Linked DNA regions of Homo sapiens: region 2 is reported to be linked to region 1. The links are microRNA targets in miRTarBase. Many come from high-throughput screens and were not tested one by one. Region 1 holds a microRNA gene; the other region holds the end of a gene's coding sequence.
The links. Region 1 holds the annotated microRNA hsa-miR-6890-3p (CCACUGCCUAUGCCCCACAG, at 2,375-2,394, opposite strand). A microRNA usually pairs through its seed, bases 2 to 8, with sites in the 3' UTR of a target mRNA and lowers its output. Matches are read on the target gene's strand: a 7mer-m8 pairs with bases 2 to 8, a 7mer-A1 pairs with bases 2 to 7 and ends in A, and an 8mer does both.

Region 2: the mRNA of PI4K2B is a reported target of hsa-miR-6890-3p. Seed matches in the 3' UTR shown: 7mer-A1 at 2,119-2,125.

The regions. Positions count from the first base shown.
Region 1 is chr3:49,097,480-49,101,479 of GRCh38, forward strand. MIR6890 (microRNA 6890) reads right to left here and starts at 2,435; the gene lies at 2,375-2,435. It overlaps QARS1 (glutaminyl-tRNA synthetase 1), which reads right to left. Exons shown (of 24, transcript NM_005051.3): 10 at 3,876-3,962; 11 at 3,096-3,195; 12 at 2,901-2,979; 13 at 2,711-2,819; 14 at 2,482-2,612; 15 at 2,282-2,374; 16 at 2,031-2,168; 17 at 1,865-1,952; 18 at 1,631-1,774; 19 at 1,406-1,510; 20 at 1,121-1,213; 21 at 874-1,001; 22 at 713-779; 23 at 513-638. RefSeq lists an enhancer at 2,875-3,375.
Region 2 is chr4:25,276,643-25,280,642 of GRCh38, forward strand. PI4K2B (phosphatidylinositol 4-kinase type 2 beta) reads left to right here. Exons shown (of 10, transcript NM_018323.4): 10 at 372-2,562. The coding sequence ends at 545. Among named protein-coding and RNA genes, the nearest start is that of ZCCHC4, 34 kb to the right of the region's middle.

The DNA.
Region 1 (4,000 bases):
CTGCCTCAAAAAATAATAATTAAAAAAAAAAAAGAGGTCGGGTGCAGTGGCTCATGACTGTGATCCCAGCACTTTGGGAGGCCGAGGCGGGCAGATCATGAAGTCAGGAATTCGAGACCATCCTGGCCAACATGGTGAAACCCCATCTCTACTAAAAATACAAAAAATTAGCCGGGTGTGGTGGCAGGCGCCTGTAATCCCAGCTACTCGGGAGGCTGAGGCAGGAGAATCACTTGAACCTGGGAGGCAGAGGTTGCAGTGAGCCGAGATGGTGCCATTGCACTCCAGCCCCGGGCGACAGTGCAAGACTGTCTCAAAAAAAAAGGCAGCCTTCATACAAAATTTTGTGCCTGGAGTTATCCTCAGTGCCAGTTTCCTCACTAGTAGAATATGAATACCAACTCCCTCAGGTGGTGAGGATTAACTAAGGGAATGTATGCAGAGCACTTGGCACAATGAACGGCAGCCACTGTCACTGCTGCAGATGAGGGCAGGTGAGTAAAGTCAAGCACCTTTCCCTGATGGCTGTCTGGATCCACGGAGAAATATCCAAGACGCTCAAACTGGAACTTGTCGAAGGGTTTTGCCAGGGCCACAGAGCAGTCCACTAATGCTGCATCCACCACGTGTAGTGATGCCTGCAGGCAGGGAACTCAGGCAACCATCCAACCAGGGAGGCCTACCTCCCTCACCCCAAACCTCATGAACCTACCAGGTTCAGGTCACTTAAAAATCCACCAGGCACCTCAGTAGGATCTTCAGGGTTCTTGTGCTGGAATCTGCAGCCAAAGTGAAGGTCATACCCCCAGCTGGGCAGCCATAGCAGGCAATGTGCATCTTGTACCTGCCCCCACCCCAGCTCTGTTCACTCACAGTCGCTCATAGAGGCGAACCTCACACATCAAAGGCTGTGACACCCAGTGAATAAAGGCCTTTGGCTTCTCTCCAGCATCTGCCCGTCTGCAGGTCACCTCCAGACTCTCTACACAACCACTGGGGCCCTGGAAGTGGGGGGAGGGGAGCAGCAATTAGACCCGGGAACCACAACCAGGACTGCAGGCTATACTCACATCTTGGCCCCAGCAGGCACTGCAGTAGGAAGGCTGCAGCTGGCTCTCACCTTGACAACATGCTGCAGCTCAATGACGTAGCCTGTATGCCTCAGGCCCACAGGCTGGCCCCAAGCCAGGCGCTTAAATCCTGGCTCTGGCTCCTAGAGATAGGAAGTGGGGTAGACACATGAGGCTGCAAGGGTCAAACAAGTGGGGAAGCTTCCCTACCCCCGTGTCTGGCAAAGATTGGTTCATCTGAAGCAGGAAGTAGATGGACTGACAGAGATGAGGAGATGAAAGGTTCCCAGTACCAGACTCAGCAGCAAACGGGACCCTCCACCCCCACAATTTACCTCCTTGAAGTCAGTCCTCTCAATGAAGACAATGGGTGCAAAGGGAACCTGATGGAAGCCTTTGGTCTCATCAGCTGGGAAGTTGGGCACCTGGATGTCCAAGGACTATAGCAGGAGACAGGAGACAGGTATGAGTCATACTCAGCATTAGGACCCCCATGCCCAGAGCCAAGTGTACCCCCAGCTACACACACACATGTGACACACATGTTGAGGCAGGCCCACCTTGGCAGCAGGAAAGTTGGTGATGATGACCCGTAGTGACTCCAGCACAGCCATGGCTCGTGGGGCTGTGTCATTCAGCACATCACGCACACAGGCTTCTAGAAGATGTGGCTCCATTGTGGTTTGTGCCACAGTCACTCCCACCTGGCAGGAAAGTTCAGCATCAGTCACAGCTACAATCACAAACTGCCACACTCAACCCCCAATGTATCTACCCAACCTGCTGGGCTATACCCGGGCACAGAAGTTGTTGATGGCCTCAGGTGGGAAGCCCCGCCGTCGCAGGGCCGTGAGTGTAAAGAGCCGTGGGTCATCCCAGTCCCTGTGGATAAGAAGGTGGTGAGAAGGCCTTTGGGAGCATATGCCATTAACCTTTCATAAGCCAAACAGCCGCACCTACCGCACAGCACCAGTTGCTACAAGCTGGAGGATCTTCCTCTTAGAGACAACAGCATAGTGCAGGTTGAGGCGGCCATACTCCCACTGCACAGGGCAATAGACGTCCAGTGCATTGCAAAGCCAGAAGTAGGAAGAGCGTCTGGGGTGGGAGAGTAGGGTTAGCACTGGCCAGCTCTGGAACCAGGCAGAGACCACAGGAAGGGCTGCTGGAATTCCACTGGCCCTACCACCCCATGGACCCAGCTCCCTCACCGGGCCTGGAATTCCTTGGTGCAGAGTGAGTGAGTGATGTGCTCGATGGAGTCACAGAGGCAGTGTGTGTAGTCGTAGGTGGGATAGATGCACCTGTGGGGCATAGGCAGTGGGCCCTACCATCCAGCCCTACTCTGCCCTACCCCATGGCCCATCGCCCTGCTCGGCAGCCCCACCACCCCACCCCATTCTACACCCACCATTTGTCCCCTGTGCGGTGGTGTGGTGTATACTTGACTCGATAGGCTACAGGGTCCATCTTGCCATCCTCCATCACCAGCTTCATCCGTAGTGTGGCCTCGCCCTCTGAAAACTTGCCCTTGCGCATTGCCTGAGGGGAACAAGGACTCAGGCTGTCTCTAAGCACAGGAGCATCTCATTCTCAGCACCTTGGCCCACCCAAACCCAGATGCTCCTCTAGGACCCCACCTCAAAGAGCAGCAGTGACTCCTCCATGGGACGGTCTCTCCAGGGTGAAGGCAGAGTATTATGGCCTTTGAGCTCCTCTCCTCGCTGGTGGCACACATAAGCCAGACCCCTGTGGGGAAGCGGTGTGAGTGCCCAGCATGGCTGTGACCTAGTCAGTCTGCCTGGCTCTACGTCATGGCCCTGGCCTTACCTGCGGATGAGCTCCACAGCCCACGCATATAGCTGGTCAAAATAGTCAGACGCATATGTGACTTTGTAAGGTGTGTAGCCTGGGGCAAAATGAAACAAAGTATGAGCAGCCAGCCACAAACACCCAGTGGGCAGGCCATGGCCCAAGGAGAGGCCCACTAACCACCAGCCCTTCTAGGCTTTGCCTAGTCCATACCTAGCCAGGCTACCATGTCACAGATGGCCGTGAAGAACTTTGCTTCCTCCTTCTCAGGGTTGGTGTCATCAAAACGCAGAAAACAGATGCCATTGTTGGCCTAGGAAAGTTGCACCATCTGTGAACTCCCACATCATCCATCAGCCCCACAATCCTGTTTATCAAACTAGGATATTCACAGAGCACTCTCATGTCAGAATTTTCTTTTTTTTTGAGATGGAGTCTTGATTATCTTGCACCATCTTGGCTCACTGCAGCCTCCACCTCCTGGGTTTCTCCTGCCTCAGCTTCCCAGTAGCTGAAACTACAAGCGTGTGCCACCATGGCCAGCTAACTTTTGTATTTTTAGTAGAGATGGGGTTTCACCATGTTGGCCAGATTGGTTTCGAACTCCTGACCTCAAGTGATCCACCCACTTTAGCCTCCCGAAGTGTTGAGATTACAGGCGTGAGCCACCCAACCCGGACTCATGTCAGAATTAAAAATGTCTTCAAGAGCTTCTCTCACCTTCCTGTATCTAACCTAGCATCTTTCTAAGCCTAGGGACTGCACTGGCAACTCCCCCAAATTTGAACTCACTGACTCCTCAGAGGGAGGGAGCTATTTATTCCAATAAGCTCAATAGATTCCTAGGTATCTGTCACACATGTGGTTCCTTTCCATGGCCTCTGCCCACCTGGGTACATTATTGGGAGCAGACAGCAAGGCAGGGATATGGTATCCACTCATGGGAACAGCAAGTGGTCATCTTGCTTGCCAGGTCCCTAGACACATGCTTACCTTGGCATAGCCAAAGTTGAAATTGATGGCTTTGGCATGTCCAATATGCAGGATTCCATTGGGTTCTGGCGGGAACCGGGTACGTACCTAAAATAAGGGGGATGGGAAAAGAGAAATAAAGTCTG
Region 2 (4,000 bases), not on the chromosome of region 1:
ACTGTTTAAACCAGTATTTGTTGAGTTTTTATGTTAAATTGAATATGTATGTAGACCTCTTCACTTACCGTTCTTTGATTCCATTGCTCCTGGACATAGGCAGGATATTCTAGAATATTTTAAACTTACCATCTGGCAAAAGTTATTTAATGCTAATTGTGTGTGTGTGTGTGTGCGCGTGTGTGTGTGCGCGTGTGTGTGTAAACATACATTCATATAATACATATTTATAACAGGTACTTATCTTCACAGTCTCTGTTGCTCATAAATGGATGAAATAAAAATTATAATGAATAAATGGTTTAAAAAATGTCAGTGAAGTGAAGCTTTTTATCTTTTTAAATTGGTAAAAATCTCTCTTCTTCCCACAGATCTTAAACCTTACTCAGGCATTGAGAGACGGGAAGAGTCCTTTCCAGCTAGTACAGATACCTTGTGTGATTGTGGAACGCAGTCAAGGTGGAAGTCAGGGTCGGATTGTCCACCTGAGCAATTCCTTTACCCAGACTGTCAATTGCAGGAAGCCATTTTTTTCCTCCTGGTAGTAAATGTCAGAGTAAGAGAAACAAACTGTTTAGAATTATCATGTTTTTAAAACATCATAGTAATATAAATCTGCTGTTAGGAGCTCCAGTTGCTAAAACCTCAATTTAAGTCTTTAAAAGGTTGTATTTTGAATGTAACCAAAAGTTTACAGTTTTTTGTCCAAATATTAAATTTCTATTTCAGGGAAGAAGTGCTATATCTCCTATATTGTATTTTTGTAGAAAATTTGTATTTTATGTTGTTGTTAGTTTAAAAGGTAATTTTACACATGCTGGAATGACTGTAATTACTCTAGAATTCCAAGTAGAATACAATAACTTTTAATATTGAGAAGAATGTTCATGCTAATTCTTCTTACATTACAAAAGGCCTTTGAGGATGCCTACGTCTGAAATTGCTCTTACGAACTTTAATAAAATAGTTAGCTAATAGAAAAACAGGTAAGAATAAAGCAATGTTGCCTTAATTTCAAAAGCTGCTATTTTAGAATTTGAATAAGTACTCCTAAAGTGACCATTATTAGGGACCAGAAAATTATATCTTGGCTAAGTAATAGAGGACCATTTTGGTTTTTGTACTTGAGAATATTTTTGGTGAATTACTTTGTTGTAGTGAGGAAAAAACCTAAGAAATTTCCCCTTTTTTTAAAAAATGGAAATATTCAATTGAGACTTGAGGGGAATAATAGAAAATTAAGGTAGATCCCCAATATTTTGGAATACCAAAATTGCCTTAAAAATTCCCTTCTGTTTCTTACATGGGATCAAATACTTGAGATTAGTACTTCAGAGTACTGGCCTTGTTCAATTTAGTACTTCAATTAGTATTAAACTTCACTAAAAAGTAAACCATACTCCAAATTGTATATTGGATTGCATTTTGGGGTCCTAGGTCATACGTTCTTCAAAATTATTATGATTGTACTATTGTACTTGAAATTACAGATGTTATTATAATTACAGTCAAATGTAGACTATCAGGCCAAATTAAAGGGGAGCATGGCAGATAACCATAAAGTCATTTATATTTGATTTTGAAATGTATTTTTGTACTTTATTTTGAATATCATCCATATGTCTGACATTATTGGAATTTGTAACATTGTTAATGCACTAAGTGATTTAAATTCAATTGATGAAGATGTGATTTTACAGAAGCAGAAGTTTCATTTTCTTGAGGCTTAAAACCAATGTCACCACTTGGGCTTAACTGGGTAATTTGTGGTCTAGGCCTTTTGTTTTCTAAGCTTACTATCTTGTGTTTGTTTATTTGCTTTTAATGAAGTATTTTGTGTAGAAGGTTAAATTAGGATGCAAAACAGATCTGCCATTCCTTTTTCCCTTATATCTTCCTTTTGGTCTTCATGGACGAGATGAATGAGGATTCTGCTGCCCTGAGGGAGTTCATTGGAAACCTGCGTTCTCCTACCTCTTCCAACCCTCCATTAGCTCAATTTTGAGATAATGGAAAATTGACTGGAAATTCAAAACTCAAACTACTATCTTTAGATATAAACACTAGTAATTAAAATGTGCCTTTTGAAGATGTTTTCTAAGAGAAAGGAAATACGTTGCAGTGATGTGGGTACTGCTTTCATAAAACAGTTTTTTCAGTATTTTGAGAATTGCCATATTAATTTTTATAATGGAAAACTTAATAAATTGCTACTGTTTTATATCATAAAATTAAAATACCATGGTAATATTTGCAAAAGGTCTGGCCATACCAGAAAAGTACAGTTGAGATAGTTAAGATATAACCACAAGTCAGAGTACATTGGTTGTATTTTGTAAACTTTCATGAACTGAATTCTTATTTAAATAGTATGGTTTTTTTTCAATAAGTATATTTATAGTGACAAATGTGGTAGACTAAAGGTAATAAAAATCATTGTCTTAAGATTATGTTCTTCTGTATGTACGTGTTTGGAATATTTAGAATGTTTATGAACACATTTACTATAAATGATGCCAAACTATCATTTTCTTCATATATTAAAGGTATAGTTTAATTCTTTTTTTTTTTTTTTTTTTTTGAGACGGAGTCTCACTGTGTTGCCCAAGCTGGAGTGCAGTGGCATGATCTCAGCTCACCACAACCTTCATCTCCCAGGTTCAAGCGATTCTCCTGCCTCAGCCTCCCGAGTAGCTGGGACTACAGGCGTGTGCCACCATGCCCGGCTAATTTTTGTATTTTTAGTAGAGATGGAGTTTCACTATGTTAGCCAGGCTGGTCTTGAACTCCTGACCTCAAATGATTTGCCTGCCTCGGTCTCCCAAAGTGGTGGGATTACAGGCGTGAGCCACCACGCCTAGCCTAATTCTTTATAATTCCAAAAGATATTTAACTGAAACCTTTATAATTAAAGACATCTTAATTGTACTTAATTAAATATGCCACCACCTTATCACCCCAAAATTTGTCAGCAATTGAAGACTGTTTGTGGAGACATGGTTTTTGCATACTTGAAGATAATTTGATTCACAAAACTTTTCAAAAATTTGAAATACTTTGGGCAGCCGAGGTGGGCAGATCACCTGAGGTCAGGAGTTCGAGACCAGCCTGGCCAACATGGCAAAACCCCATCTCTACTAAAAATACAAAAATTGCCCAGGCGTGGTGACACACACCTGTAATCCCAGCTACTCAAGAGGCTGAGGCACAAGAATTATTGAACCCAGGAGGGAGGGTGGAGGTTGCAGTGAGCCGAGATCACACCACTGCCTTCCAGCCTGGGTGACAGAGTAGATTCTGTCTCAAACAAACAAACAAACAAACAAACAAAAAAATTGAAGTACTGTACTATATGGAATTAAAACCTTTTTTAAAAATGACGGTGCCACGTTCTTTGATCAAATTACATCTTAAATCCTTGTACAGCTGTTTGAATAGACAGGCAGCATCCTAGGTTTTATAGTCTGCCTTCTTTCACCAACTTGCTTGGGCAACTGTACAGAGTTGTAGCAGAGATTCTTAGTGCTGTGCTATGTTTCCAAGTCTCTCATGCAATTAGTTTGGGGCCTTGTGACTGAGTTCTGGCCAGTGAGATGTGGAGACAAGTGATATATGCAACTTCCAGGCCTGGCAGTAAAACTGTCACGATTGACCACTCTCTTGTCTTTCCATTCAGCTATGAACGAAGAATTTGCAAAATGGAAGCAGCCAGGGCACAGGAGGCACTGCTGGGGAAAGCCACCAGGAGAGCCTCCTGACTGCACTTGATGGTGACATGAGCAAGAAAGAAGTTCCATGTTGAGTCACTGCAGTTTTGAATGTAATTGTTACTCTAGCTTCGTCTCTCCTATCCCAGACATTATGATGTAAAAAGAAAAATACCAATCACTTTTAAATAGGAGGCATACCGTAACATTTCTTCACTAAAGCTAGGTGAAAGGTTATCTTTTTGAATTCCAGAATATGAATAGTTTGGGTTAAAACCATCAATACATGGCCA